Linked DNA regions of Homo sapiens. The protein of the gene in region 1 purifies or fractionates together with the protein of each later gene. This does not show direct contact. Each region holds a gene or a part of one and is shown on either strand. Other genes may lie near its edges. The genes, in order: COPS5, DTL, DDB2 and DCAF11.

What was found.
Region 2: the proteins of COPS5 (region 1) and DTL purify together in Homo sapiens (affinity purification with mass spectrometry; 6 studies listed by BioGRID and IntAct, with this or other methods). This does not show direct contact.
Region 3: the proteins of COPS5 (region 1) and DDB2 purify together in Homo sapiens (affinity purification with mass spectrometry; 12 studies listed by BioGRID and IntAct, with this or other methods). This does not show direct contact.
Region 4: the proteins of COPS5 (region 1) and DCAF11 purify together in Homo sapiens (affinity purification with mass spectrometry; 6 studies listed by BioGRID and IntAct, with this or other methods). This does not show direct contact.

What each region holds. Positions count from the first base shown.
Region 1 is NC_000008.11:67,052,112-67,059,133, reverse strand, and holds part of COPS5 (COP9 signalosome complex subunit 5), read left to right. Parts: intron 1-922; coding exon 923-1,051; intron 1,052-1,688; coding exon 1,689-1,754; intron 1,755-2,529; coding exon 2,530-2,615; intron 2,616-7,022. UniProt on the Homo sapiens protein: Probable protease subunit of the COP9 signalosome complex (CSN), a complex involved in various cellular and developmental processes.
Region 2 is NC_000001.11:212,094,748-212,101,769, reverse strand, and holds part of DTL (denticleless protein homolog), read right to left. Parts: intron 1,519-7,022; coding exon 686-1,518; intron 1-685. UniProt on the Homo sapiens protein: Substrate-specific adapter of a DCX (DDB1-CUL4-X-box) E3 ubiquitin-protein ligase complex required for cell cycle control, DNA damage response and translesion DNA synthesis.
Region 3 is NC_000011.10:47,210,278-47,217,989, reverse strand, and holds the start of DDB2 (DNA damage-binding protein 2), read right to left. Parts: upstream 3,017-7,712; 5' UTR 2,854-3,016; coding exon 2,727-2,853; intron 1,797-2,726; exon of another isoform or gene 1,655-1,796; coding exon 1,518-1,654; intron 1,133-1,517; coding exon 941-1,132; intron 1-940.
Region 4 is NC_000014.9:24,110,436-24,117,782, forward strand, and holds the start of DCAF11 (DDB1- and CUL4-associated factor 11), read left to right. Parts: upstream 1-4,341; 5' UTR 4,342-4,858; exon of another isoform or gene 4,859-4,946; 5' UTR 4,947-5,159; coding exon 5,160-5,314; intron 5,315-6,481; coding exon 6,482-6,609; intron 6,610-6,830; coding exon 6,831-6,958; intron 6,959-7,232; coding exon 7,233-7,297; intron 7,298-7,347. UniProt on the Homo sapiens protein: May function as a substrate receptor for CUL4-DDB1 E3 ubiquitin-protein ligase complex.

The DNA.
Region 1 (7,022 bases):
TTATCCCCTTTACATGAAATTTTATATTTAAATTTTAATGATTTATATGTAAAATGTACGAGATTAAAAGCCTGATAAGACTTATAGCATGGTTTTTTTTGTTTTTTGTTGTTGTTGTTTTTTTTTTTTCGAGACAGGGACTCACTCTGTTGCCCAGGCTGGAGTGCAGTGGCGTGATCTCAGCTCACTGCAACCTCCATCTCCTGGGCTGAAGCAATTCTCCCTCCTCAGCCTCCTGAGTAGCTGGGACTACAGGCGTGCACCAGTAGGCCTGGATAATTTTTCTATTTTTAGTAGAGACGGGTTTTCTCTGTGTTGGCCTGGCTGGTCCCAAACTCCTGTCCTCAGGTGATCCACCACCTCAGCCTCCCAAAGTGCTGGGATTACAGGCATGAGCCACTGCACCCGGTCTATGGCATGGATTTTATTTTTTTTTTAAATAAACTCTCACACTTATTATCAGATACGTGTTTAAAATAAAAAATTTGGAAACAACCTAACTCAGTTCCTGAGTATAAAACTGGCTAAATAAATTATGGTATATCCATCAGTGGACTGCCAGGCAGCCTTTAAAAGAAAAAAAAATAAAAAGATAACCATCATATATATTGATGATTTATATGAAGCAAACTCCAAAGCAGTTTATTGAGTGAAAAAACAAAGTGTAAAACATTATTATGTTATGTGGTATGCTATTGTGTGTGTTTTTATCAATCTATGTATGTGCAAAGAATATGTATTCTGTATACAAAGAATATCTCTGTAAGGGTAAGCAATTGCCCATAGATTTCGCATCTGGGCTGAGAAAAGTGGGTAATTGAGGAGAAGGAGATGGGAAGGAGACTGGTTACCCTTATTGTACTGGTACCTTGTAAATTAATTAAAGAGTAATCTTAAACTTTTTTGCCCCTTCATTTGTTAGGTTGGCCGCCTTGAAAATGCAATCGGGTGGTATCATAGCCACCCTGGCTATGGCTGCTGGCTTTCTGGGATTGATGTTAGTACTCAGATGCTCAATCAGCAGTTCCAGGAACCATTTGTAGCAGTGGTGGTAAGAATTTTAAAACCAGTTTAATTAAGTTCTTTATGAAGATTTGCTGAAGCAAGTATACTGAGAAATAAGAATAGTGTAGTAAAGAGAAATTGCTCTGGTATCAGTCTGCCTAGGTTTCAATGTGAATTCCATCTCTTAGAAGCTGGGACTTTGAGCAAATTATTTAACCACTGTGTATCTTGCTTCTCCCCTCTGTAAATTGTGGGTAGTCATAGCATCTATGTCTCAGTGCCAGCTCATCATAGGCATTCAATCAGTGTTGACTGAACTGAGTTAAGCAGGAATTGCTAGAGCAGCTCTTATTATGTTCAGGGTGTTTTAAGTGCAATCCAGGTTTTATGAGGAAGGTAGGAGTTATTCACCTCTTAAAAGGACAAAAGAAAACTTTTTAAAAATAGATGAGCAAACCTTCAAATAATATTCTTAAATGTTATAATAATTTGAATCTCTAAGTTAGCTGTGAGACACTTATATTACCCTCTTACTGAACTTTTATGGTTTTTTGGTTTATTCTTATTTGGTTATTATGTATGTATATAGTGTTATATGTATGTATACATTTCTAGGTTTATAATGTTTAAATAAAAGGCATACAGTTTTATATCAGCAGATATTAAATATATCTTTCTTATAGATTGATCCAACAAGAACAATATCCGCAGGGAAAGTGAATCTTGGCGCCTTTAGGACATACCCAAAGGTAACTTTTTTTTTTTTTAAGAGTTAGAGTCTCACTGTGTTACCTAGGCTGGAGTACAGTGGCTATTCACAGGCATGATCATAGTGTACTACAGCCTTCATCGCCTAGGCTCAAGCCAACTCAGCCTCCCAAGTAGCTGGGACGGTAGGAATGCTTAGTAATTTTTAAAATTATAAGTCCTTACATTTTTTAAATTCCAAATATTTGACTTATTATTAAAGACATTAGCAATATCTCTTGTTATTAAAACAATTCAATAATATTTACAAAATAGTAAACTACCACAAGCTGTCCCTAGCAAAGGGTAATACATTTATGTTATATATTGTTAATTTTACTGGAAAAGCAGTCTTTATTTATTAATAAGTATCTGTGTGCCTGTGGCATTCTGCCAGGTACTAGAGAAAAAACAAGCTAAATCTATAGGTCTATTTCCTTCCCTGGCAGGAGGCCGCAATCTGAAATAGTTATTAGAACAAAAGTACATCACCTAAGGAGAAGAAAAATAAATCTGTAAGCAAAATCCAGCCTACAGCCACCAAACTGGGTGGGGGGAAAGTAGAAACAGTATTTTTTTTTTATTAGAATGCTCATGTTAAATATTTGCCTCCGAAAGTTAATAATCCTATTATTAGAAAGCTCCATAGAAAACATGTTTTTCTCATTTTTATATATATATATATATATATATATATATATATATATATATATATATATATATATATATTTTTTTTTTTTTTTTTCTTAATCTTCTGTTTACCTCATTTTTGTTTAGGGCTACAAACCTCCTGATGAAGGACCTTCTGAGTACCAGACTATTCCACTTAATAAAATAGAAGATTTTGGTGTACACTGCAAACAGTAAGTAATTTAAAAACATATCTGGGCCAGGCACGGTGACTCACACCTATAATCCCAGCACTTTGGGAAGCCACAGTGAGAGGATTGCTTGAGGACAGGAATTCGACACTAGCCTGGGCAACATAGTGAGACCCCATCTCTACAAAAAATGTTATAAAAGTTAGCCAGATGAAGTGGCACAGTCCTGTAGTCCCAGCACTCAGGAGGCCTAAAGAAACCTTAGATATCAACCAGTCCAAGCCCCTTATTTTACAGATGAGACAAAAGGCATAGACAAAATGCATTTCATGATAGCTTTTACAATAATAGTATATGAATTTAGGTAAATGTTTGCATTTTTAAATTTTTTTCTTTTGCATTTTTTATTAATGTTTCAAACTAGCATGTCATTTGCCTTTTAAACAACCTAAACTTTTTCTAATGTACAAGATATTTGGCCTACATAAAATTATAACAAGTGAAAGATGGGTTCAGGACCAGCTGACACTAGCATGTCTGCAGCCCTCAAAATATATAATTTCTACTGAACAAAGATTCTTTCTAATCTTTGAAAGATTTGAAAGACTAAAGAAGCCATATTAAAAAGTCAAAGTTATAAAAGTGTAAGAATTCTTACTAAAAACCACTGTATTACATACCCTCCCCCCACCCCCAAGACATAGTCTTGCTCTGTTGCCCAGGCTGGAGTGCAGTGGCGTGATCTTGGCTCACTGCAACCTCCGCCTCCTAGGTTCAAGCAATTCTCCTGCCTCAGCCTCCCAAGTAGCTGGGATTATAGGTGTGTGCCACCACACCTAGCTAATTTTTGTATTTTTAGTAGAGACAGGGTTTCACCGTGTTGGCCAGGCTGGTCTCAAACTCCTGACCTCGTGATCCACCCGCCTCGGCCTCCCAAAGTGCTGGGATTACAGGTGTGAGCCACTGTGCCCGGCCTACGTACCTTTTTTGATGGTGAATTTTATGATGTATGAATTATATCTTAAATTATTTTAATGTTAAAGAAGCCAATGGGGACAGTTTTCTCTACCTTCTAAATATATCTCACCACCTCTTTTACTATCCTTTTCACCCAAGCCACTGCCATCTGGAGCCCCAATCAAGCACTTGCCTTCCGGCGAGTCTTTCTACTTGTGCCCTTCACTTCTTAAAGCTCTGTTTTCAGCCAGACTGATTCTGTTAAGATGTAAGCCGGATAATCCTCTTCCTTTTCAGAATGACTTCCCATCTTACCAAGAACAAGATCCTTAGTCCTTATCACAGACTGCACACCTCTGTGTGGTCTGGCTCCTACAGCCTCTGTGAGCTCATGTCCTATCACTGAACTTCTGCTGGTCTGCAATCCAGCCATATTGACTTCCTTATGGTTTGTAAAATGTGCCAGCAGGCTCATGGCTCAGAGCACTGGCACTTGCTGTTCCCTCTGCCTAGAACGCTCTTATTTCCATGTGGCTCACTAACTGCTTTAAGCATTGAGTATCTGTTTACAGGGTCGTGCTAACAGAAAATGTTCATTAGTTCATTAGGCATGATCATGGTGTAGTATTTTACCTATGTAAAGTAACACCTCTGTTTCCTCTTTCCCCGCTTTTTCTTCTTAGCACTGTAACCATCTGATATGTTTTGACATCTTTTTTTTGACCCCTTTAGAATGTGAACACAAATTTACTGCTGTATCCTTGGATTTAAAACAGGGCATGCCACATAGAAGAGGGCACCAAAAAAAATTGCTGCTTAAATGAATAAATGATTATCTACTGCCCTCTTTTTCTGTACCACTTATGCCAACTTCAAAGAATACTTTGGCTACCCATGTGCTACTACTGCTCTAATTTTTCTATTTAGAAGTTCTTAGAAAATTCTAGAATTTCTAAAATTAAATTCTTAAATATATGTGGTTTTCAATAATCTCTGACATATTTCTGTAAATACAATTCTCTTTTCTTCCTTTTTTTTGGTTCCTGTTTTTTTATTTCAGATGGAGTCTCACTAGGTTGCCCAGGGACTACAGGCACACCACTGTGCCCAGCTATAGAAACAAATATATATTCAGATAGAAGTTTAGTGTTAATTATTTAATTTGCCCTATTAAAAAGAATTTAAATGATTCCTGTTTGAGAGAATTGCTCCTAAGCCTGGAAATACCTTTGCTGTGATACTTTAATCTTCAGAGGAACTCTCAATTTTTTTTATTTATATTGAGTTGTATCAAAGGTTTATACTTCAAAACAAAAAAAGATTGAGACAGTTTATGTTTTCCGTATTCAAACAGATCTACTTTCCCTGTTTGTCTATTCCGTTAGTTTATCCTTCTGTCTTCCTTAAATAACTTTTTTTTTTAAGATCGTGTTGCGTACCAATCCTTAAATAACTTTCTTTTGGCAAACACCTTACCTTGCCACTCTGAAATATGAGCCTACCAAAGAGGGATAGCTACTTTGCTAGCGGCCTACATTGCTAAAGACTAGAATTTTGAACCTGGAATTGCTAAAATGTTCTTTTTTTTTTTTTTTTTTTAAATGGAGTCTTGCTCTGTCACCCAGGCTGGAGTGCAGTGGTGTGATCTCGGCTCACTGCAAGCTCTGCCTCCCAGGTTCACGCCATTATCCTGCCTCACCCTCCCGAGTAGCTGGAACTACAGGCGCCCACCATCATGCTCGACTAATTTTTTGTATTTTTAGTAGAGATGGGGTTTCACCGTCTTAGCCAGGATGGTCTCAATCTCATGACCTCGTGATCTGCCCGCCTCAGCCTCCCAAAGTGCTGGGATTACAGGCGTGAGCCACCGTGCCCGGCCCAAAAATGTTCTTTGTGTGTGTGTGTGATGGAGTCTCACTCTGTCACCCAGGCTGGAGTACAGTGGTGCCATCTCGGCTCACTGCAACCTCCGCCTCCCAGGTTCAAGCGATTCTCCTGCCTCAGCCTCCCGAGTAGCTGGGATTACAAGCACACACCACCACACCCAGCTAATTTTTGTATTTTTAGTAGAGACAGGGTTTCACCATGTTGGCCATGCTGGTCTCGAACTCCTGACCTCAGGTGATCCACCTGCCTCAGCCTCCCAAAGTGCTGGGATTATAGGCGTGAGCCAACACGCCCAGCATGATGTGTTTAATTTATTATGTTTTATTTCCTCACGCTAAACTTTAATCCGTAAGCATTTTTGCACTTTGGGAGTCTGAGGCGGTGGATCACTTGAGGTCAGGAGTTCGAGACCAGCCTGGACAACATGGTGAAACCCTGTCTCTGCTAAAAATACAAAAAATTAGCTGGGCATGGTGGTGGGCGCCTGTAATCCCAGCTACTCGGGAGGCTATGGCAGAACGATCACTTGAACCTGGGAGGCAAACGTTGCAGTGAGCCCAGATAGCACAACTGCACTCCAGCCTAAGTGACAGAGTGAGATTGCGGCTCAGAAAAAGCATTCTGTTTTTAAAAGGGTGCCTATGTGTCTTTATCTTTCGCACCACTAACCTCTGAGTCTGAACCTCTGTCTCTTCTCATCTTCCCTGCTGCAGTGGCTTCCTTTGTGGAATCCCTGCCTCCAGTTTCTCTCCTGTAATATCTCCTAATGGTACTATAAAACACCCCTTTGACTGTATTATTACTCTACTCAAGTACCTTCCATTCTACTCAAGCACCTTCCAAGAGTCCCGGGTATCTACAGGATAAAGTTTAAATTTCTTTTTTTTTTTTTTTTTAAGACAGAGTCTTGCTCTTGTTGCCCAGGCTGGAGTGCAGTGGCGCGATCTCGGCTCACTTCAACCTCTGCCTCCCGGGTTCAAGCGATTCTTCTGCCTCCGTCTCCCAAAGTTTGGCCGAGCACTGTGGCTCCCAGCACTTTGGGACGCCAAGGCGGGCAGATCACCTGAGGTTGGGAGTTCAAGACCAGCCTGACCAACATTGTGAAACCCCATCTCTACCAAAAATACAAAAATTAGCTGGGCATGGTGGAGGGAGCCTGTAGTCCCAGCTACTCGGGAGGCTGAGGCAGGAGAATCGCTTGAACCCGGGAAGCAGAGGTTGTGGTGAGCTGAGATTGTGCCATTGCACTCCAGCCTGGGTGACCAAGCAAGACTCTGTCTCAAAAAAAAAAAAAAAATTCTTAACCTTTTGTGTAACATCCTTCACCACCTAGACCCCAGCATAGCTTTCTAGCTTCCCCTCACATAATTCTTCTCTTGCTAAATTTTCCAGCTAAACCCATTGCCTTATTATCTCTTACATGTCTTTCCTTTTTGTGTGTTGATGCTCTCTGCCTAATGCCCTCCTTGCTCTCCACATATCCATACCATAGACTCAAAAATGTTTACCCTACACCTTGCCTTTTCCCTGAGGCTTCTCAGGCAGTTCTAGCTTGAGCTCCTCTATATGAAGAATACTTATTATCTCTAACCCTTAGTTGGTAGG
Region 2 (7,022 bases), on another chromosome or scaffold:
TTAAATATTAAGTCAGTCAATGAAATGAGTCCTAAAAAGATAAGTGACACTACACTGAATGTTAAAAAGAATAGATATAGGTGTCAAAAGTATTACTGTGGTGTGGCAAAATGATTATAAAAGATTGTGGAGAAGTCATAAAAATCTAGAAAGATTTTGCACTCAAATTGTTTTGTAAGTATCTAAGTTTCACTGTATTTTAAATAATCACAAAATGGAATTACAAACTGGAAATCTACTTATGGATGTTGGCAACTTTCCCATGAACAACAGCTTTATCTATAAAAAGAGGATGGCATACTGTCTAACAGGAGAGGGGAGATATTTTTGAATTGATATCCTGGAGCATGATGAAGGCTTTGGTCAATCAGGCAACAGGGCTGAGGAGTATGGACCCTGACAGGAGGGATTTTAATGGGAGTAAGTAGAGTTGCCAGATAAAATACAGCACATTCAGTTACATTTGAATTTCAGACAAACAAAAATAGTTTCTTAGCATAAAACATTTTTACTAAAAATATGGCCCATGCAAAATTTGTTTTGTATTTATGTGCTGAATTTGGCAGCACTAGGAATAAATAGATTTCTTTCTTTAAAAAAAAAAAAAAGCATCCTGACTTGAGACATCTGGGTGTCTGGCCCCTTTTAAGTTAGGAAATGTATCTTCCCACCACTGCTGACTTACCGGGCTTGGCAATTTCTTTCCGCTCTGTCTCCTGGAATTGGGTGTCTGGGATGACGGACTTCGTGGAGATGGATTCTCAGCCTTCCGTTTGGCTGCCATGGCCAACAACCAGTTTTTATTCTCTGGGGAACTATTCTCTTTGCCTACCATTTCAGACCCTTCTCCACAAGGTCTCAAAGGAAGAGGTAGCGTTCCACAGCTTTCTGAAGCATACGGACTGATAGGAGACGGAGGCTCTGAGATACTGGTACCAGCTCCTTCAATTTTGCTTGATTTGGTAGGACCTAGAGAGTCCTTACTAAGGTCTTCCTGGTTACCAGCAAGGCAGCACAGATCCAAATGAAGATTTTCAACTTGGCCATCAAGCTCAGTCACACAGTTACAACTCTTCACACACTTTTGTTTCACACTCTCCAGACAGCTTGAGTCTAGCCTCCTCTTTACTCTATTTCTAGACTCAGAGCAAGCCTCTGCTTGGGATGACTTCTGGCTCACAGGAATAAGGGCTTTTCTCGGAGACATGATCTTGGTCTCCGAAGCAGGTGGAGTGATGGGTGGTGATGAGGAAGGTGTTCGGGTCACCCAGTTTCTAATCGACATCTTGAAAGATGAAGGTGGCTTGGGAGAGACGGAGGAGACAGAGCCTCTTCTGTTGATGGGAGACCGGGCCTTGGCAGGAGAGGTTTTAATAGAGAACGTAGGAGTATTTGAAGGAAGAGGGAGGTCTCCAGCACAGCTTGGGGCACAAGCTGCGGATGACGGGGAAGAATTGGATGGATTGCACTTTGCCCTGGGGGCTTTGGCAGGAGTACTCTGGCTACTCGTTACTGTTACTGAAAAAGAGGAGAGGATCATGAAGATCAGAAGTGAAAGCCATACAAAGTCCCTAAATTCTCATCAAGAAAAATCATAGCTAACCTAATCATCTAAGGGTCAATTTGCCAGTAAGTAGGTATACATCACTTGATTCCAACCACACCCTTTTATCATTTTCCTTTCTCTTTTCCAAGTCACCAACCTCCCAACTATCCCATTATAAAATATATACTTGTAAAAATCGACAAAATACCGAAAAACATAAAGAGAAAAAATTTAAAGCACTTACGTAAACCATGTTTAGCATACTTTCTATATTTGTGCATGTGATACATACTATACATCTCAACTTTTTTCTTTACAAAAATGAGACTGATTTAAGGGGAAAGTGGCAGATAGGAGGCAGGACTAATTTGCCACTCAGACAGACAGAACAGCATGTGGAGACTCACATAGTGAACTTTGGCTCCAAGAACTATCACAGGAACATACCAGAAAAAACAAAAGAATTAACAGATCCTTTGAAAGAAGTGGCTTGCTGCTGCAAAATCCACAAGACAGCAGAAAAATTGAGTGCCCAAAGTGTGAGAGGGCTCCCGAAGCTGTGTGCTTGGTCGAAGAGGACAACCATTCCTGATAAGAGGAGAATCGGTCTTCAGTCAAGGGTATACGAGTAAATGTGCTCCCCTGCTAGAACCTCCAAACAAGCTCTCAAGGTCCAAAGTGTGAGAGGGTGGCTGGGTGTGGTGGCTCATGCCTGTAATCCCAGCACTATGGGAGGCCGAGGTGGGTGGATCACTTGAGGTCAGGAGTTCAACACTAGCCTGGCCAACATGGTGAAACCCTGTCTCTACTAAAAATACAAAAATTAGCCAGGCATGGTGGTGTGCACCTGTAGTCCCAGCTACTCAGGAGGCTGAGGCAGAAGAGTTGCTTGAACCTGGGAGGTGGAAGTTGCAGTGAGCCAAGATCGCATGCACTGCACTCCAGCCTGCCTGACAGCGAGACTCCGTTTCAAAACAAACAAACAAACAAACAAACAAACAAAAAACAGTGTGAGAGGGGTAAAGTCCACTTCTGCACACATCCTCACTGAGGATCCAGATCATGGGAGAAGGAGAACTGAAATGAATTTAGAGAGCCAAACAAAATATAAAAGTAGAAGCAGCAGCAGGAAGAGCCCTGTAGGCACTCCTGGTCCCCAGGGAAACCATTTCTGACTATCTCACAGGGGTCTTTGGAGAGGGCAGCCAATGGAATTGGGGAAGGACCATAGGGAGAAGGAGACTTTCAGCTGAACTTTGTAATGATTTCAACTGAGCGTGAATTTTCCTGGGCAGAATCTGCAGGGGGATGGGACAAATAGGAAGTGCAGATATGAGCACAGAAGCTGTGGCAGGCAGATGGACAAGGCCTAACAGCCCTGCTTGCTTTCTCGGCGGGGAGTTTTGTAGTCTAGGGCAAGATCTCCACCCTGTGCACTGGAGGCATGGATATAAATTTGGTTCTGTTGGCTGTTGGGGAAGCACTGCAGGAGTGAGACTGGCCTTGCTGGCTGTGGTCTGTCACTGCCGGCTTTCCCCTATTTCCCTGGTGATGTGTATGAAGCAGCAGAGGCAGCCATAATCTCCCTTAGAACGTAACTCCATTGGCCTGTTAACCACCACTCCCATCGCCCAGAGGCCACAGCAAGCCCTGCCCAAGGAGTCTGAGCTCAGACACACTATCCCTGCCCCCACCAGATGGTCTTTCTCTAACCGCCCTGGTAGCCGTAAACAAAAGACAAAAACTCGTGGGGCCCTGCTCATTGCCTGAGAAGCCCGAAAACCTATCCAGGAAACCGTAAGGCAAGCTTATATCCCCCGCTATACTACTGCAGTTGATACTCTCTTGAAAGTGCCACCTCCTGGCTGGAGGCCAACCAATTCAAGCCATTACAGCAATTCAACAGAACAACCCTGCTCCAAGAAAGCAGAAAATAACAGCTAATTCTACTGCCTGTAACATCTTGGCCAACCAGAGAGGTCCTGAGTCTGTCCATGTAATAACTTCAGTGCTAGTATAACTAGCATTCAAGACAACCAGTACACTAAATAAAACTACAACCAAGTACTCTCACACAGTCCACTTCACTCCTTTCCTACCACCTCCATTAGAGCAGGTGCTAGTATCCATGGCATACAGACCTGAAGACAGATCACATCACAGGACTCTTAGCAGACACTCTCCAGTACCAGCCTAGAACCCAGTAGCTCTGCTGGGTGGCTCGACCCAGAAGAGCAATAACAATCACTGCAGTCCAGCTCTCAGAAAGCCCCACCCCTAGGGAAGGGGGAGAGCACCACACCAAGGGATCACTCTGTGGGACAAAAGAATTTAAACAGCACACATTGAGTCCCAGATCTTTCTTCTGACATAGTCCACCCAAACGAGAAGGAACCAGAAAAACAATTCAGGTAATATGACAAAACAAGGTTCTATAACCACCCCTAAAAGATTATACTAGCTTACCAGCAATGGATCCAAACCAATAATAAATCTTTGAATTGCCAGAAAAGAATTTAGAAGGTCAATTATTAAGCTACTCAAGGAAGCACCAGAGAAAGATGAAAACCAACTTAAATTTAAAAATAAAACAAAACAGGATGTAGACGAAAAAAATCTCCAGAGAAATAGATATCATAAATAAAAAACAATCATGACTTCTGGAAATGAAAGACACATTTAGAGAAATGCAAAATACACTGGAAAGTTTTAACAATAGAACCAAACAAGTAGAAGAAAGAATTTTGGAGCTCAAAGACAAGGCTCTTGAATTAACCCAATTCAACAAAGACAAAGGCAAAAGAATAAAAACTTCTCTGGCCTTGCTCGAGATCTAGACATCCAAATACAAGAAGCTCAAAGAACACCCAGGAAATTCATCACAAAAAGATCATCACCTAGACACACAGTCATCAGGCTATCTAAAGTCAAGATGAAGGAAAAAATCTTAAGAGCTGGGAGGCAAAAGCATCAGGTAACCTGTAAAGGAAAAACCTATCAGATTAACAGCAGATACTCTACAAGCTAGAGGGGATAAAGGTCTTATCTTTAGCCTTATTAAATAATTATTAGCTGACAAAATAATTATCAGCCAAGAATTTTGTATCCAGTGAAACTAAGCTTCATAAATGAAGAAAAGATGAAAGTCTTTTTCAAACGCTGAGAGAATTTGCCACTACCAAGCCAGCATAGTTTACAAAAACTGCTAAAAGGAGTTCTAAATCTTAGAGCAAAACCTTGAAATACACAAAAATAGAATCTCATCTCATAGTGGGGGACTTCAATACAGTAAGTCAACATAGAAACAATGGACTTATACCCTAGAACAAATGGACTTAACAGGTATTTACAGAACATTCTACCCAACAACTGCAGAATATACATTCTATTCATCAGAACATTCATGGAACATTCTCCAAGATAGAGACCATATGATAGGCCACAAAACAAGTCTCAATAAATTTAAGAAAATCAAAATTATATCAAGTACTCTCTCAGACCATAGTGGAATAAAATTGGAAGTCAACTCCAAAGGGAATTCTTAGAACCATGCAACATTAAATAATCCGCTCCTGAATGATCTTTGGGTCAATAATGAAATCAAAATCAAGCTGGAAATTAAAAAAATTCTTTGAACTGAATGAAAAAAGTGACACAACCTAACAAAACCTCTAAGATACAGCAAAAGCAGTGCTAAGAGGAAAGTTCACAGCATTAAGTGCCTACATCAAAAAGTCTGAAAGAGCACAAATTGACAATCTAAGGTCACACCTCAAGAACTAGAGAAATAAGAACAAACCAAACCCAAACCCAGGAGGAGGAAAGATATAACAAAGACCAGAGTAGAACTTAATAAAAATGAAACAACAACAACAAAATACAAAAGATAAATGAAACAAAAAGCTGGTTCTTTGAAAAGATAAACAAAATTGATAGCCCATTAGTGAGATTAACCAAGAAAAGAAGAGAGAAGATCCAAATAAGTTCAATTAGAAATGAAACAGGAAATATTAACAACGAATACCACAGAAATACAAAAGATCATTCAAGGCTACTATGAACACATTTGTGCTCACAAACTAGAAAACCTAGAGGAGATGGATAAATTCCTGGAAATATACAACCTCCTAGATTAAACCAGGAAGAAATAAGAACTCTGAACAGACCAATAACAAGCACTTAGATTGAAATGGTAATAAAAAAATTGCCAAGAAGAAAAAGTCCAGGACCAGATGGATTCACTGCTGAATTCTATCAGACATTCAAAGAAGAACTGGTACCAATCTTACTGAAACCATTCCAAAAGAGAAAGAGGGAATACTCCCTAAATCATCCTATGAAGCCAGTATCACTCTAATACCAAAACCAGGAAAGGACATGACAAAAAAGAAAACTACAGACCAATATCCCTGATGAACATAGATGCAAAAATCCTCAACAAAATACTAGCTAACCAAATCCAACAGTATATCAAAAAGATAATCTACCATGATCAAATGGATTTCAAACCAGGGATGCAGGGAAAGTTTAATATACACAAGTCAATACATGTGATACACCATATAAACAGAATTAAAAACAAAAATCAGGCCGGGTGCGGTGGCTCATGCCTGTAATCCCAGCACTTTGGGAGGCCGAGGAGGGCAGATCACTTGAGGTCAGGAGTTTGAGACCAGCCTGGCCAACATGGTGAAACCCCATCTAAAAATACAAAAATTAGCCAGATGTGGTATCTCAGCTACTTGGGAGGCTGAGGCAGGAGAATCCCTTGAACCTGGGTGGTGGAGGTTGCAGTGAGCTGAGATGGTACCACTGCACCCCAGCCTGGGCAACAAGAGCGAAACTCTAAGAGAAAAACAAACGAAAACACATGATCACTTCAATAGAAGCAGAAAAAACGTCTGACAAAATCCAGCATCCCTTTATGATGAAAACACTCAGCAAAATCAGCATAGAAGGAACATACTTGAAGGTAATAAAAGCCATCCATGACAAACCCACAGCCAACGTTATACTGAACGGGGAAAAGTTGAAAGCATTCCCCATGAGAACTGGAAAAAGACAAGGATGCCCACTTTCACCACTTCTATTCAACATAGTAGTGGAAGCCCTAGCCAGCCACAGTCAGTCAGAAAAGAGAAATTAAAAGGCATCCAAATTGGTAAAGAGGAAGTCAACCTGTCACTGTTAGTAAATGATATGATTGTATACCTAGAAAACCCTAAAAACTCATCCAAAAAGCTCCTAGATCTGATAAATGAATTCTGTTAGGTTTCAGGATACAAAATCAATGTACATAAATCAGTAGTACTGCTATACAGCAACAGCAAACAAGCTGCAAATCAAATCAACAACTCAACCCCTTTTACAATAGCTGCAAAACCTAGGAATATACCTAACTAAGGAAGTAAAAGACCTCTACAAGGAAAACTACAAAACACTGCTAAAAGAAATCAGATGACACAAACAAATGGAA
Region 3 (7,712 bases), on another chromosome or scaffold:
AATAGAAACAGCTGGTGTGGCTACAGCATAGAAGTGAGAAAAGACAATGGCGTAAGATGAGGTCAATGTGGTAAGAAGGGGCTTCAATTCTTTTTTTTTGAGATGGAGTCTCGCTCTGTTGCCCAGGCTGGAGTGCAGTGGCGTGATTTCGGCTCACTGCAACCTTCGCCTCCCGGGTTCAAGCGATTCTCCTGCCTCAGTGTCCCAAGTAGCTGGGACTACAGGCGCACACCACCACATCCAGCTAATTTTTTGTATCTTTAGTAGAGACGGGGTTTCACCATGTTGGCCAGGATGGTCTCCATCTCTTGACCTCGTGGTCAGCCCACCTTGGCCTCCCAAAGTGCTAGGATTACAGGCCTGAGCCACTGCGCCCAGCCCAGAAGGGGCTTCAATTCTATGGGTGATCAATAGTCTATATCTTCTAGTATTTTAAGGACAGGCATTAGAAAAATATATATCATCATCATTTACGTATTTGAAAATGCCCACAGTTAATTTTGATCCCAGTCCTCTTCCTGATGATTACTGGATGACATCAATATTCCTTTCATGCCTTCAACAAACACTCCTTATTTTTATTTTCTTTTATTATTATTATTATTATTATTTTGAGATGGAGTTTCACTCTTGTTGCCCAGGCTGGAGTGTAATGGTGCAATCTTGGCTCACTGCAACCTCTGCCTCCCGGGTTCAAGCAATTCTCCTGCCTCAGCCTCCTGAGTAGCTGGGATTATAGGCGCCTGCCACCACACCCAGCTAATTTTTGTATTTTTAGTAGAGACGGGGTTTCACCATGTTGGCCAGGCTGGTCTCAAACTCCATACCTCAGGTGATCCACCCACCTTGGCCTCCCAAAGTGCTGGGATTACAGGTGCGAACCACTGCACCCAGCCAACAAACACTTCTTTAGCACGACCTGGCATGGGGAACTGCTCACCCCTTTGATGAAGGTGGGTTTGTCCTTGATGCCAAAATTCCAGAGCATGATATCTCCCCCTTTGGAACCCACAGCCACGGTGCTGGGGTGAGTTGGGTGCCACGCCAAGGATGTAGCCCTCCTGTCAAAGGGGGCAGCCTTTTGTAATATCCGGTAAGAATCCAGAGTGTGCAAAAAGGACTGCTGGAGCCCCTGCCACAGAGAGAAATGAATTAGGTTGAATTAAAACCCAAGTTCTGGGTAAACTGCCAATCTCTGCCTCCTTCATGGATGAGCCCTAGATCCAAGTCCTCCCACCAAAGGAAAGCTAACTGCCTGCCCTGTGCATGAAAATATTTGCAATGTACACGAACGAATAATCTTGGAAAGCAAAAGGGGCAGAGTGCATTCCAGCTGGGACCTTTACAACATAAGACATTTTTTACCTGGCTGAGTGCCCAGTAGGCCAGTCACCACAGTCTGGGTGATCGGACCACTCTGACAAGCTGGTGAACCAAGCCATCATCTAATTTGGGAGCATGCAATAGTAAAAATGCACGTGTAAACCCTTGAGGACTTGAGGCAAAAAATGCCTTACCTGCTGGACAGATGGCCAGGAAGCTCTGCCCAGCTTATGCTGGTGGAGGGTCCTGACGATGCTGCGGCATGGTGGCAGGATCTGTGGGCCAGCCAGCCCCACCCAGAGGCAGTCTGAGTCACATCTTCTGCTAGGACCTGCCAAGCAGAACAGACATATTTTCCTCTCCAATCTCACGAAAGGTTTTTCTGCTGAATTCCCCGAAAGGAAGCCTTGTTTCATTCGGCACGGTTAATCTCTGTCTCATCACCTCCTGCGGCCTTTCCATGTCTGTGTGGTCTCAACGAGCACCAGAAATAAAAAAATGAGTGAGGATTTGGCCCCTTCCCCAAAACACTCCCACAAACAGTAAGTCTGAAGTGAAAGTAAATACAGTCGTGCAGGGTTCCTGAGACCCCAGCCAAAGAAACACACAAGGATAAAGTACAATGCAGAACTCTTCCCAGTTTGGGCTGCAAAACTCGAGATGGGACTGGGTCACAATTTTATAAATCACATATAATGCACAATAAAAAGATTTTAGGGCAGCATGGCAGAAGTCACCGTTTAGGAAAAGAAGGAATAGGAAGGCCTGGAAATGCTCTTAACTAGGTTACTTCTGGGGAGGTAAGTGAAATTAGAATAGCAATAAAGCAACAACTCCTGATCACCAAACTGTATTTGAGGACCCAATCACTATAGGTCCGACGTCTTGACAACCAATTCTTTCTTCTCATGGACAAAAACCACTTGATTAACAAGCCCCAGCTCGTTTTTGAGTGTCTCGAAACTCCTTATAGCCCCAGGTTCAAGCCCCAGTAAACCTCAGAGAATGAGCTTTCTAAGGAGGAAGGAATTGGGGGCTCTCACAACTGACCACCGAGGACGTGCAGCTAACAAGCGTGACTATGAAATCCAGCACACACAGCGCCAGGAAAGGTAGGATTCTCTGAAGCCGTCCTAACTGTGCAAGAACCCTGATACGAACAAGGAATCTGACAAGTCCGTGTGTCTGTTGTTACGGAGCTCATCTGCTTCCTGTTACCTAGCGGGAGAGGTGTTGAAACCTAAACACTCTGGTGTCAAAGGACCTGCAGGTAGAATGCACAGCCGGAGGCACCCGTGACCTGCGCGGGCCTCGGGAGCCTCGGAGCACCCATCCCCCGCTGCAGCCTCCTGCGCGAGCACCCTAAAAGGCGGAAATATTCAAGCAGCAGGCACAGGCAGTACCGGAGCCCTTCGCACAGAGCTTCTTGGCCTCGGGCTCCAGCTCCAGGGGACTCCTGCTCCTCTTGTTCCTGGGGCGTAATACAATCTCGGAGGTCTTCTGGGTTTCTGGGCGTTTCTTGGGAGCCATCGCGTCCTCCGTGTGAAGGGGTACTGTGCTCTATGCGAAGATCATGGAGGGAGGATTGAGAGGCCTCTGGGGAGAAACAAGGCGGGGACTACAAAACTGCGGGGCCACAGGTAGCCGAGCTAAGCCAACTTCCCGCCAAACATGCCCAGGGCTTGTTCAAACCAGCTTGGAGCTCCGGCCCCACCCGTCTCGGAGACCCCGCCCCTTCCTGGAAGGCGGGGGCGCGGGGAGGGGGTGGTGCCAAGGGGCGGTGCCAGCGCTCCCGGGAGGGGCGGGAACTGCGCCAGGGCCAGTGCCAGCCCGGGTCAGCTGACCTCCCTGGAGCAAAGATGGTCCCCGGCTTTATGGATTTTTTTTTTTTTTTTAGCAACAGGGTCTGGCTCTGTCGCTCACTCTGGAGGGCAGTGGGGCGATCATAGCTCAGTGCAGCCTCCACCTCCTGGGCTCAAGCGATCCTCCCACCTCAGCCTCCTAAGTAGATGGGACTACAAGCGTACGCCACCACGCCCGGCTAATTTCTCTCTCTCTCTCTCTTTTTTTCTTTTTCTGGAGAGACGGGGTCTCGCTTTGTTGTCCGGGCCGGTCTTTAACTCCTGGGCTTAAGCGATCATCCAGCCTTGACTTCCTGACACGAACCCTCCTCAAACGCGGCGCTGCCAGGCCTCTGCGGGTCCGGGGAGGAGGCCCGGTGCCAGCCAAGGCTCTGTCTCCCGCCTTGCAATTGGTGATGACGCCCGCTCGGGCTTTGGGATTGGCTGGTCCCTACAGGGTGTAGTTGGGGAGTGGCGGCTTTGTAGAGAGCTAGTGCCTTTCCTAAGTTAGAAGCTGGGCTCTACCAGCGGTCAGCTTTGCAGTCGGATTCCAGAAACTACAGTCCCATCGAATCCAAGCTGCTTCTCTGTGAAGGGAGAATGATTGGAACTCCTTGCCTTTTTTTTTTTTTTTTTTTTTTTTTCCTAGAGGCAGTGTCTCTCTTCCGTTACCCAGGCTGGAGTGCAGTGATGTAATCACAGCTCACTGCAGCCTTGACCTCAAGTTTCACTGATCCTCCCACCTCAGCCTCCCAAGTAGGCTTGCAGACCTGTATCCCCAAGCCTAATTTTTTTATTTTTATTTTTGTAGAGACAAGGTCTTGCTATGTTTCCCACGTTGGTCTGGACCTCCTGGGCTCAAGTGATCCTCCTGCCTCTGCCTCCCAAAGTGCTGGGATTACAGGCATGAGCCACCGTGTCTGGTTCTCACTGCTCTTTTATTTGTTTGGTCGTTGGCTGTTTTTATTTTTTCTTTCTTTCTTTCTCTCTTTCTTTTTTTTTTTTTTTTTTTTGAGACAGGGCCTCTCTCTGTCACCCAGGCTGGAGTGCAGTGGCAGGATGTGGGCTCAATGCAGGCTGGACTTCCTGGACATCGATCCTCCCACCTCAGCCTCCCGAGTAGCTGGGACTACAGGTGCGCGCCGCAACACTCAGCTAATTTTTGCATTTTTTGTAGAGACAGAGTCTCCCTAAGTTGCCTAGGCTGGTCTAGAACTCCTGGCATCCATCCACCTCGGTCTGCCAAAGTGCTGAGATTACAGGTGTGAGCCACTGTGCCCAGCCTCCTCACTGCTTTTTTTTTTTTTTTTTTTTTGAGACGGAGTCTCACTCTGTTGCCCAGGCCGGAGTGCAGTGGCACAATCTCGGCTCACTGCAATCTCCGCCTCCCGGGTTCAAGCGATTCCCCTGCCTCAGTCTCCGGAGCAGCTGGGACTAGAGGCACACACCACCACGCCTGACTAATTTTTTGTATTTTAGTAGAGACAGGGTTTCACCATGTTGGCCAGGATGGTCTCGATCTTCTGACCTTGTGATCTGCCTGCCTCGGCCTCCCAAAATGCTGGGATTATAGGCGTGAGCCACCATGCCCAGCCTCTTGGCCTCTCACTGCTTTTAACTAAGACTTGCCTAACCTGTTGGGTGTCCACCTAGGAGCAGCCTGGGACGTGATGGGCCAGAGGGCGTGCAGCCAGCGGTACTTAGAACTCCTACGCCCTCGCTTCAGCCAAAGTCCAAGTCTTGAAGGTTCACAGGTGAGGCCGCGCTGTCCTGCCTAGCCTGAGAAGAGACAGTTTGGATGCACCCTAGTTTCTGCGAAGAGGCAGGCAGGAGTTGGGCTTACTCAGGCATTGCTGGGCCTTTCCTCCACCCACTAAGCCCCGTGCCTGACAGTTTGTGGGGGTGGGAGGAGATATACAAAAATGCATTAATGGTAGGCCATCGCATTGGCTCAAGCCTGTAATCCCAGCACTTTGGGAGCCTAAGGCAGGTGAATCACTTGAGGCCAGGAGTTCAAGACCAGCCGGGCCAACATGGTGAAACCCTTTCTCTACTAAAAATACCATCAGGCGCAGTGGCTCATGCCTGTAATCCCAGCGCTTTGGGAGGATGAAGCAGGCAGATCACTTGAGGTCAGGAGTTCGAGACTAGCCTGACCAACATGGTGAAACCCCGTCTCTACTAAAAATACAAAAATTAGCTGGGGCGTGGTGGCACTTGCCTGTGGTCCCAGCTACTCAGGAGGCTGAGGTAGGAGAATCGCTTGAACCGAGGAGAGGGAGGCTGCAGTGAGCCAAGATCATGCCACAGCATTCCAGCCTAGGCGACAGAGCAAGACTCCAACTCAAAAAAATAAAAATAAAAATAAATAAATATAAAAAATTAGCTGGGCATCATGGCACGCACCTGTAATCCCAGCTATTCAGGAGGCTGAGGCAGGAGAATCACTTGAACCTGGGAGGCAGAGGTTTCAGTGAGCTGAGATAGCGCCACTGCACTCTAGCCTGGGTTACAGAGTAAGACTCCATCTCAAAATAAACAAACAAAAAATAATAATTTGTTTAATGCATTAATGGTAGATCCTACTCTCAAGGATTTTTCAGACAGATAGGGACAGAAGATGTTACCAAAATCAACTCTTGGTCCAGTGTGGTGGCTCATGCTGGTAATCTCAGCACTTCGAGAGGGCAAGAGGATAGGATCGCTTCAGCCCAGGAGTTGGAGATCAGCCTCAGCAATACTGAGACCCCTGTCTAAAAAATTAGAAAATACACAACTTAGCTAGGTGCGGTAGCACACGCCTGTAGTCCCAGCTACTTGGGAGGCCAAGGCAGGAGGATCGCTTAAGCCCAGGAGTTTGGGACTGCAGTGAGCTACAATTGTGCCACTGCACTCCAGCCCGGATGACAGAGGTTTACCCTGTTTCTAAATAAATAAATAAAAATTGGCCAGGCGCAGTGGCTCACGCCTGTAATTCCAGCACTTTGGGAGGCCGAGGCGGCCGGATCACCTGAGGTCGGGAGTTCGAGACCTGCCTGACCAACATGGAGAAAACCCATCTCTAGTGAAAATACAAAATTAGCAGGGCATGGTGGCACATGCCTGTAATCCCAGCTACTCAGGAGCCTGAGGCAGGACAATCACTTGGACCCAGGAGGCGAAGGTTGCGGTGAGCCAAGATGGCGTGATAGCCCTCCAGCCTGGGCAACAAGAGCAAAACTCTGTCTCAAAAATAAATAAATAAATAAATAAATAAAAATTAAATAAGCTCTTGCAACGGAATGAATGCTCCAAAAGGGAAATTAGAAGGCCGGTTGCGGTGGCTCACGCCTATAATCCCAATAGGAGACCGAGGTGGGCAGATCACCTGAGGCCAGGAGTTTGAGACCCACCTGGCCAACATGGTGAAACCCCTCTCTATTAAAAATACAAAAATTAGCCAGGCATGGGGCACGTGCCGGTCATCCCAGCTACTCAGGAGGCTGAGGCATGAGAATCGCTTGAACCGGGAAGGCAGAGGTTGCAGTAAGCTGAGATCACGGCCAGGCGTGGTGGCTCACGCCTGTAATCCCAGCACTTTGGGAGGCCCAGGCGGGCAGATCACGAGGTCAGGAGATTGAGACCATCCTGGCTAACACGGTGAAACCCTGTCTCTACTAAAAATACAAAAAAAATTAGCCAGGCGTGGTGGCGGGCGCCTGTAGTCCCAGCTACTCGGGAGGCTGAGGCAGGAGAATGGCGTGAACTTGGGAGGCAGAGCTTACAGTGAGCCGAGATCGCGCCACTGCACTCCAGCCTGGGTGACAGAGTGAGACTCCGTCTCAAAAAAAAGAAAAAAAAACACAAAAAGGCTGAGATCACATCACTGCACTCCAGCCTGGACGACAGAGTAAGACTCTGTCTCAAAAAATAAAAAATTAAAAATTAAAAAAAAGAAATGGTTTTGCCTGGGAAAGGGGCAAGCTGGGAGCTTCTCCCCTGCTAGCCTAGAGCTGTGTTTTCAGAGCTGTGTTGCAGAAGCAAACTGTTCGCCCCCTCCCCTTATTCAGACCAACCAACATGCCAACTAAGACCAACCTGTCCTTCAGCAGGGTGCTCAGTTGCAGGGGATATTGAAGTGTAAGAAATGGACTTTGCCTCTAAAAGATTTACAACCTACTGGGAACTGAATAAAAATATATGTGAAACAAGTAAAATACTTCAAGGTAGGTACACATTTGAAGACTAAGTATGCTATGCCCACCAAGGTTTTTGGTTTTTGGTTTTATAGAGACAAGGTCTCACTATGTTGCCCAGACTGGCCTTGAACTCCTGGGCTCAAGCCATCCTCTAGCCTCAGCTTCCCAAATTGCTTTGATTACAGGCATGAACTACCATGCCTGGTCACCAATTAAGATTTTTGGATGCACTCAGGAAAGCTAATTCTATGGAGACAGTAGTACTGTTGTAACGACCCAAGGGGTTCACTTTGCCTGAGCCAACTCATCAAGACAGGGGAATTGCAACAGAGAAAGAGTAATTCACGCAGAGCCAGCTGTGCAGGATACC
Region 4 (7,347 bases), on another chromosome or scaffold:
ATCGTTTTTGCATCTATTACATGTCACCAGAAGAAATGATTATCTTTATTTTTTTAACTTGACAATGTAGTTTGCACAATTTCCTATGGTATAAAAATAGAAGGCTACAACAAACCTATACCAGGAATAGGTACCTTAAAAAAAAATTGAAGACTACAACACCATTTTAATAGCTACCTGGTATTTCTGTGTCTATACTACATGGACCATAATTTATTTAACAATCCCATATTGCAAGATATTTAGATCTTTGTTTCCAGTGTTCCACTTTTATCAATAATTGCTATGTAGAACATAAATTTTTATGCATGTCCGGCCTAGATTTCTGGAAGCAGTATTACTGGGTCAAAGTGCAAGGCTGTGAGGAAGGGAGTTTTGTAGACAGCTTCCCTCTAATAAGAAATTCTCCTGGGAAGGTGCAGAGGTAAAAATAAACAAGCTATTTATTGGCATATTTGCTTAGCAGAAATATCAAAAAATGAGGTTACTAAAAATAGACATCCAGGTTTGGAAGTTTGTATTTGAAACAATGAACAATAGTGAGCCATTTGTTGATTTTCTTTTAGAGACAGTCTTTAGCTCTATCCCCAGGCTGGAGTACAGTGGAGCAATCATGGCTCACTGCAGCCTCCACCTCATAGGCTCAAGATTCCCTCCTTCATCCTTCCCAAGTAAGTTGGGACCATAGGCACGCGCCACGATGGCCGGCTATTTTTTTTTTCTTTTTGTAGACTGGGTCTCACTATGTTGCCCAGGCTGGCCTTGAACTCCTGGCCACAAATGATCCTCCTCCTCGGCCTCCCACAGTGCTGGAATTACAGTCGTAAGCCACCGTGCCCAGCTCACTTGTGCGTTAAGCACTAAATGCTGTTAGAGGAGGATTCTTCAGCAGATCAACTACCGGAAGAGGCATAGGTGTTTTTTGTTTGGTTGGTTGATTGTTTTTTGTGTGTGTGTGACGGAGTTTCGCTTTTGTAGCCCAGGCTGGAGTGCAGTGGCGTGATCTCGGCTCAATGCAACCTCCACCTCCCGGGTTCAAGCGATTCTCTTGCCTCAGCCTCTCGAGTGGCTGGGATTACAAGCGCATGCCACCACACTCGGCTTTTTTTTTTTTAGTGACGGGGTTTCACCATGTTGGCCAGGCTGGTCTCGAACTCCTGACCTCAGGTGATCCACCCGCCTTGGCCTCCCAAAGTGCTGGGATTACAGGCGTGAGCCACCGCGCCCGGCCAATTTTTTTAAAAAATGATTCCGTCCTGAGACTTTGCTGAAGTTGCTTATCAGCTTAAGGAGATTTTGGGCTGAGACGATGGGGTTTTCTAGATAAACAATCATGTCGTCTGCAAACAGGGACAATTTGACTTCCTCTTTTCCTAATTGAATACCCTTTATTTCCTTCTCCTGCCTGATTGCCCTGGCCAGAACTTCCAACACTATGTTGAATAGGAGCGGTGAGAGAGGGCATCCCTGTCTTGTGCCAGTTTTCAAAGGGAATGCTTCCAGTTTTTGCCCATTCAGTATGATATTGGCTGTGGGTTTGTCATAGATAGCTCTTATTATTTTGAAATACGTCCCATCAATACCTAATTTATTGAGAGTTTTTAGCATGAAGGGTTGTTGAATTTTGTCAAAGGCTTTTTCTGCATCTATTGAGATAATCATGTGGTTTTTGTCTTTGGCTCTGTTTATATGCTGGATTACATTTATTGATTTGCGTATATTGAACCAGCCTTGCATCCCAGGGATGAAGCCCACTTGATCATGGTCGATAAGCTTTTTGATGTGCTGCTGGATTCGGTTTGCCAGTATTTTATTGAGGATTTTTGCATCAATGTTCATCAAGGATATTGGTCTAAAATTCTCTTTTTTGGTTGTGTCTCTGCCCGGCTTTGGTATCAGAATGATGCTGGCCTCATAAAATGAGTTAGGGAGGATGACAAATGGGATCTAATTAAACTAAAGAGCTTCTGCACAGCAAAAGAAACTACCATCAGAGTGAACAGGCAACCTACAACATGGGAGAAAATTTTCGCAACCTACTCATCTGACAAAGGGCTAATATCCAGAATCTACAATGAACTCAAACAAATTTACAAGAAAAAAACAAACAACCCCATCAAAAAGTGGGCGAAGGACATGAACAGACACTTCTCAAAAGCAGACATTTATGCAGCCAAAAAACACATGAAGAAATGCTCATCATCACTGGCCATCAGAGAAATGCAAATCAAAACCACTATGAGATATCATCTCACACCAGTTAGAATGGCAATCATTAAAAAGTCAGGAAACAACAGGTGCTGGAGAGGATGTGGAGAAATAGGAACACTTTTACACTGTTGGTGGGACTGTAAACTAGTTCAACCATTGTGGAAGTCAGTGTGGCGATTCCTCAGGGATCTAGAACTAGAAATACCATTTGACCCAGCCATCCCATTACTGGGTATATACCCAAAGGACTATAAATCATGCTGCTATAAAGACACATGCACACGTATGTTTATTGCGGCACTATTCACAATAGCAAAGACTTGGAACCAACCCAAATGTCCAACAATGATAGACTGGATTAAGAAAATGTGGCACATATACACCATGGAATACTATGCAGCCATAAAAAATGATGAGTTCATGTCCTTTGTAGGGACATGGATGAAATTGGAAACCATCATTCTCAGTAAACTATCGCAAGAACAAAAAACCAAACACCGCATATTCTCACTCATAGGTGGGAATTGAACAATGAGATCACATGGACACAGGAAGGGGAATATCACACTCTGGGGACTGTGGTGGGGTCGGGGGAGGGGGGAGGGATAGCATTGGGAGATATACCTAATGCTAGATGACACGTTAGTGGTGCAGCGCACCAGCATGGCACATGTATACATATGTAACTAACCTGCACAATGTGCACATGTACCCTAAAACTTAGAGTATAATAAAAAAAAAAAATGATTCCGTCACATTCTGGGAGAACGCAGGTAAAATCAATCAATAAATAAAGATCCCGATTTTCCAGGCTGGATAACCCAGAAACCACGGAATCCTAAAGTCTCAATAAACGTTAAAGCACAGATAGTAAGTAATCTGGCAATAGAGGATGGGCGCCCAGCAGACCGCCTACATAATCAGTGGAGCCGAGTGCAAGATGAAAATACCAGGCACTTGCTTTAAAATTACTAATAATTTCAAGACCGTTAACACTAGAACATTAAACCAAACATTCAGGACCCTTCTAAGCGCAGAGGCCATCAAAGCTAGCCCTGGTGACAAGCTCAGGTCTCCGGATCTAGAGACTAGGAGACGTCGCCCGAAAGCTGGCCAAACCCTCGCCCTCACTGGGAGAGGCCCCAGGAGGGCCCAAGAAGGCCACGAGCCCTCGCTCCCATCCCTGCCCTCAGGAGCGGGCGGAGGGAAGCTCGCAGCTTTCCCAAGGAAGTGCAGGCTGCAGGGAATGAAGTTCAGCTCGGACCCTGAGCCTCTGAGCCCGAGACAGCAAGGTCATTCAACCCACACGTCCCCACCCAGCCAGGGCGAGGATCAGAGATGTGGCAACTCCCGGCCTTGGACTCAGGCTTGTTACTCATAAACCCGCAGGAGGGGGCAGGAGGGGGCAGGAGGCGGCGAGCGCGCACCCTGGACCCGCGGCCGGGGGCGGAGAGGCACCGCGAGGACAGAGGGACTAGCGAAGGTCTGCAAATCCCGGAGGGCCAAGGGAGCGTCAAAGGGGACAGCGGAACCGGAAAAGCTTTGACAGAAAGACGCGTGTATTAGGGAACGTCTGCAAAGACCGCGGCGGAAAGCCAGGGATTGTCTTAAAAAATTGTCAGACCGGATAAAGGGAGGTCTAAAAGGGGACCGTCCCAAGAGCAAGGCTTCCAAAAGCTAAGCCCGGAAGGACGGTATGGAGGTCTACTGGGACGCTGGGCACCCCTTAGGGCAGAACCGACTGGAGCTGCGGCCAGCGACAGAAGAACGGCTCCAGCTGGACAGGGGAAGCAGTGGGGAGAAAGGAGGCCCTTGGGCACTGTCTGAAAAGTGCGATGCCAAATGATCTTTAGGGACAGACAGTAAATTATATCCCTTGCTAAAATACCTCTCGGTAGCGAACCACCAAACGTTTCTTTTTTAAGCCCCGCCTCTCAGCCGTTACGCCTAGTTCGGCTGTCTCTGATTCAGGAAGCTGGCAGTTCCCACTTACTCCTCCCCAGCAAGAGCTAACAGCCCTCCTTGGGTGTGCACTTTCTCCTCCCCTCAGGCACCTCGCGCATTCTCCCGCCTACCTATCAATCATCGTGCTCCGCTGTCCAGTTGGCTGGCCAAGGGGGCGGGGCCGTCGTGTGACGTTTGCAGCCCGCCGGCCAGGAAGCCGCGAGATGCGTGACGAGCGAAGCGCGTGACGGAGGAGCGGTTGGCCAACGCAGTGGCGGCAGTCGGTGTAAACAAGGCCTCGCGCCGCTGCGGGTCCTGCGACCGCTCCTGGCTGGTGGGTGGTCTCGCGTGGGGCGGTTACCGCCGGCTTCAGTGGGAGGTGCTTCTCGGCTTCCTCCCCCTCATGGCGTACACACCCCCGGCGCACCACGTGGGCGTGAGGCGAGGAAGGAGGGGTGTTAGGCCAAATTCTATTTTCATTGGCTGTCACTGCTGCCGGCCTTTGTAAGGGGGCGCTCTGATTGGTCGATAAGGTGGGGGCGTCGAGGGTCTTTGAGTCCTAAGGCTTCTAATTGGTTAGATGAGATAAGCTAGTGAAGCGCTTTCTTCCGAGAGGGATTTCGATTGGTCGGTCAGAGAGGTTACCTGGAAATCCAACACCGCCCAACACCCCTCCCGCTCCCCAGTCCGGGGACTTCGATAGGTGAGTTTGGTGTAGAAAACAAATCTTTCTTCAGTTGGTGAGCTAGGGTAGCGCACTACGGTTCACTCTTGCTTTCTTTGCTTCACAGGATTGGAGAAGGTTTGTGTTCCCGACGCCTTGGTAGTTGGCATAGGCTAAAGAAAAGGGATCTCAGCCCCGAGGAAGGGTCACCCTCCTAGAGATAGCTACTACCCCGTCTCAGGAGACCCTGGTATTTCTAGAGCACGCTTTGCTTTCACCAAACCCAAGGAGGTGACAGGAGGAGCCCCCGCACAGGACCTAAGAATGCTGTGACCAGAAGATGGGATCGCGGAACAGCAGCAGTGCAGGATCCGGGTCCGGAGACCCCTCCGAGGGCTTGCCCCGAAGAGGGGCTGGCCTGCGTCGGAGTGAGGAAGAGGAAGAAGAGGATGAAGATGTGGATCTGGCCCAGGTACTGGCCTATCTCCTCCGCAGGTAACTTACCCTCTGGTGTGACCCCCAGCAGGTGCTACCACAGTGCCTTGATCCCAACTCCAGGCAGGAAAATTACAGAGGTTAGGAAATGGGATTCGCTCAGGACAGCTGTTCTGTTTGAGCTGAACAGCCTTTCCCTGCTGGGCACCCATGGCACTCAGCTCCATACCCAGTAAGAGTGGTTCTTACCTAGGGAGGGTCACCAAGAGGACCTGCTCATGTGTTTGAGGGGCTATTCAAGGGAGCCTGTCTCTGTGACTACACAAATATAGTCTATTTTCCAAGTAAGCTTGAAAAAAAAAAGGGGGGGGTCCTAGTGGGAAAGGAGTGATGTAAGGGGTGAAGAGATGGGAAGGGAGTGTTGAACTTTTTAGTAAGGCAGTTGACACATGATATGAGGCCACTTCGATTTACTTGAAAAACAAGTTTAATTTGCCCTGACTCTAACCTGTTCTTGAGGAAAGAATGCCTTGAAGGGAGAGACCACCTGGAATTGACTGGAAAAGGGTGCAGCTGGCTTTCTTTCTTTGCTTATGGCTCTTTGAGGAGAAGATGGGTTTGGGGGTCCCTTCAGAATATTGTATTCTTTTTTGTTTGTGTTTTGTGTTGTTTTTAGTAGACATAGACAGGGCTCACTGTGTTCCCCAGTCTGGAGAACGGGCTATTCACAGGTGTGATCAAGTGCACACCACAGCCTGCAACTCCTGGGCTCAAGCAATCCTTGCCTCCCAGGTAGCTAAGACTACAGTTGCACACACCACCGCACCCAGCTTAGAATATTGTCTTCTGTGGTGGACTTCTCAGGCAGAGGCTCAGAAGGAAATGCTGTGAGGATGTTTAGCTTGTTGGGAGGTCAACTTAGTAGGTCATGTCCACAGCGTATTGGTCTTGCTCTTGTTCTAAGGAAATGATGTTAGAATGTTTAGCTCGCTGGGAGGTCAACTTAGTAGGTCACGTCCACAGCATGTTGGTCTTGCTCTTGCTGTAAGAGTAAAACTCTCTTTCCTACTGTGTTTTATAGGAGACCAAAAATAACAGCCAAGGTCTAGTCAGCCTCAAACCTCAAAATGAGTACCAAGTGGTCTAAGAGCTAGATAGCCATTGACTCTGAATTTGGTTGGTTTGGGGGAAGAAGTCCCCTCCTTTATAATGGGGGTCTCTCCACAGAGGCCAAGTGAGGTTGGTGCAGGGAGGAGGTGCAGCAAATTTACAATTCATTCAGGCCCTCTTGGACTCAGAGGAAGAGAATGACAGAGCTTGGGATGGTCGTCTTGGGGATCGATACAACCCACCTGGTAAGAGGAAAAGCCCCTAATGTTGGAAGACTTTTACTAGAAAACCTTTTAGTGATATTTTGAATGATAGGTTACATTGAAAGAAGGTACGATAATTTAAGGAATAAGGAGTCCTTACAGCCCCAGTATATTCAGCCACAGGGGTGGGCTTGGGTACAGTTCTGCTAACTGTCCTCTGAGGCTGGCAGACCTAGGATGAAACTTCTCCTTGGTACTCACAGTGGATGCTACCCCTGACACCCGGGAGCTGGAATTCAATGAGATCAAGACACAAGTGGAACTGGCCACAGGGCAGCTGGGGCTTAGGCGGGCCGCCCAGAAGCACAGCTTTCCTCGAATGTTGCACCAGGTAGGCCTCTCCACCTCCCAGCCTGGCAGCAGGCCTGCCAAAGCAGCCAGAAGCTCTGCCAGCCCCAGAGAAAAAGGAAGTCAACTTTCCAAAGTAGAAGCCTCAAGCGCTGGGGCTGGAGAGTTAACCAGCCTCCATCGGAGTTCTGTGGGACAGACTATGATGTGTGTGTCCATTTCTATAACAAGAGCAATATCTTTGGAGGAGGGGGCTTGATATGGCTGAAGTGGCCCTCTATTTCTGCTAGCAATATTCCCCAATCCCTTCCATTTAGAGAGAACGGGGCCTCTGCCATCGGGGAAGCTTCTCCCTTGGAGAACAGTCTCGAGTGATATCTCAGTGAGTATGGGGCTTGGTGAAGAGACTCTAAGGGCCAGATAGGTCTTATC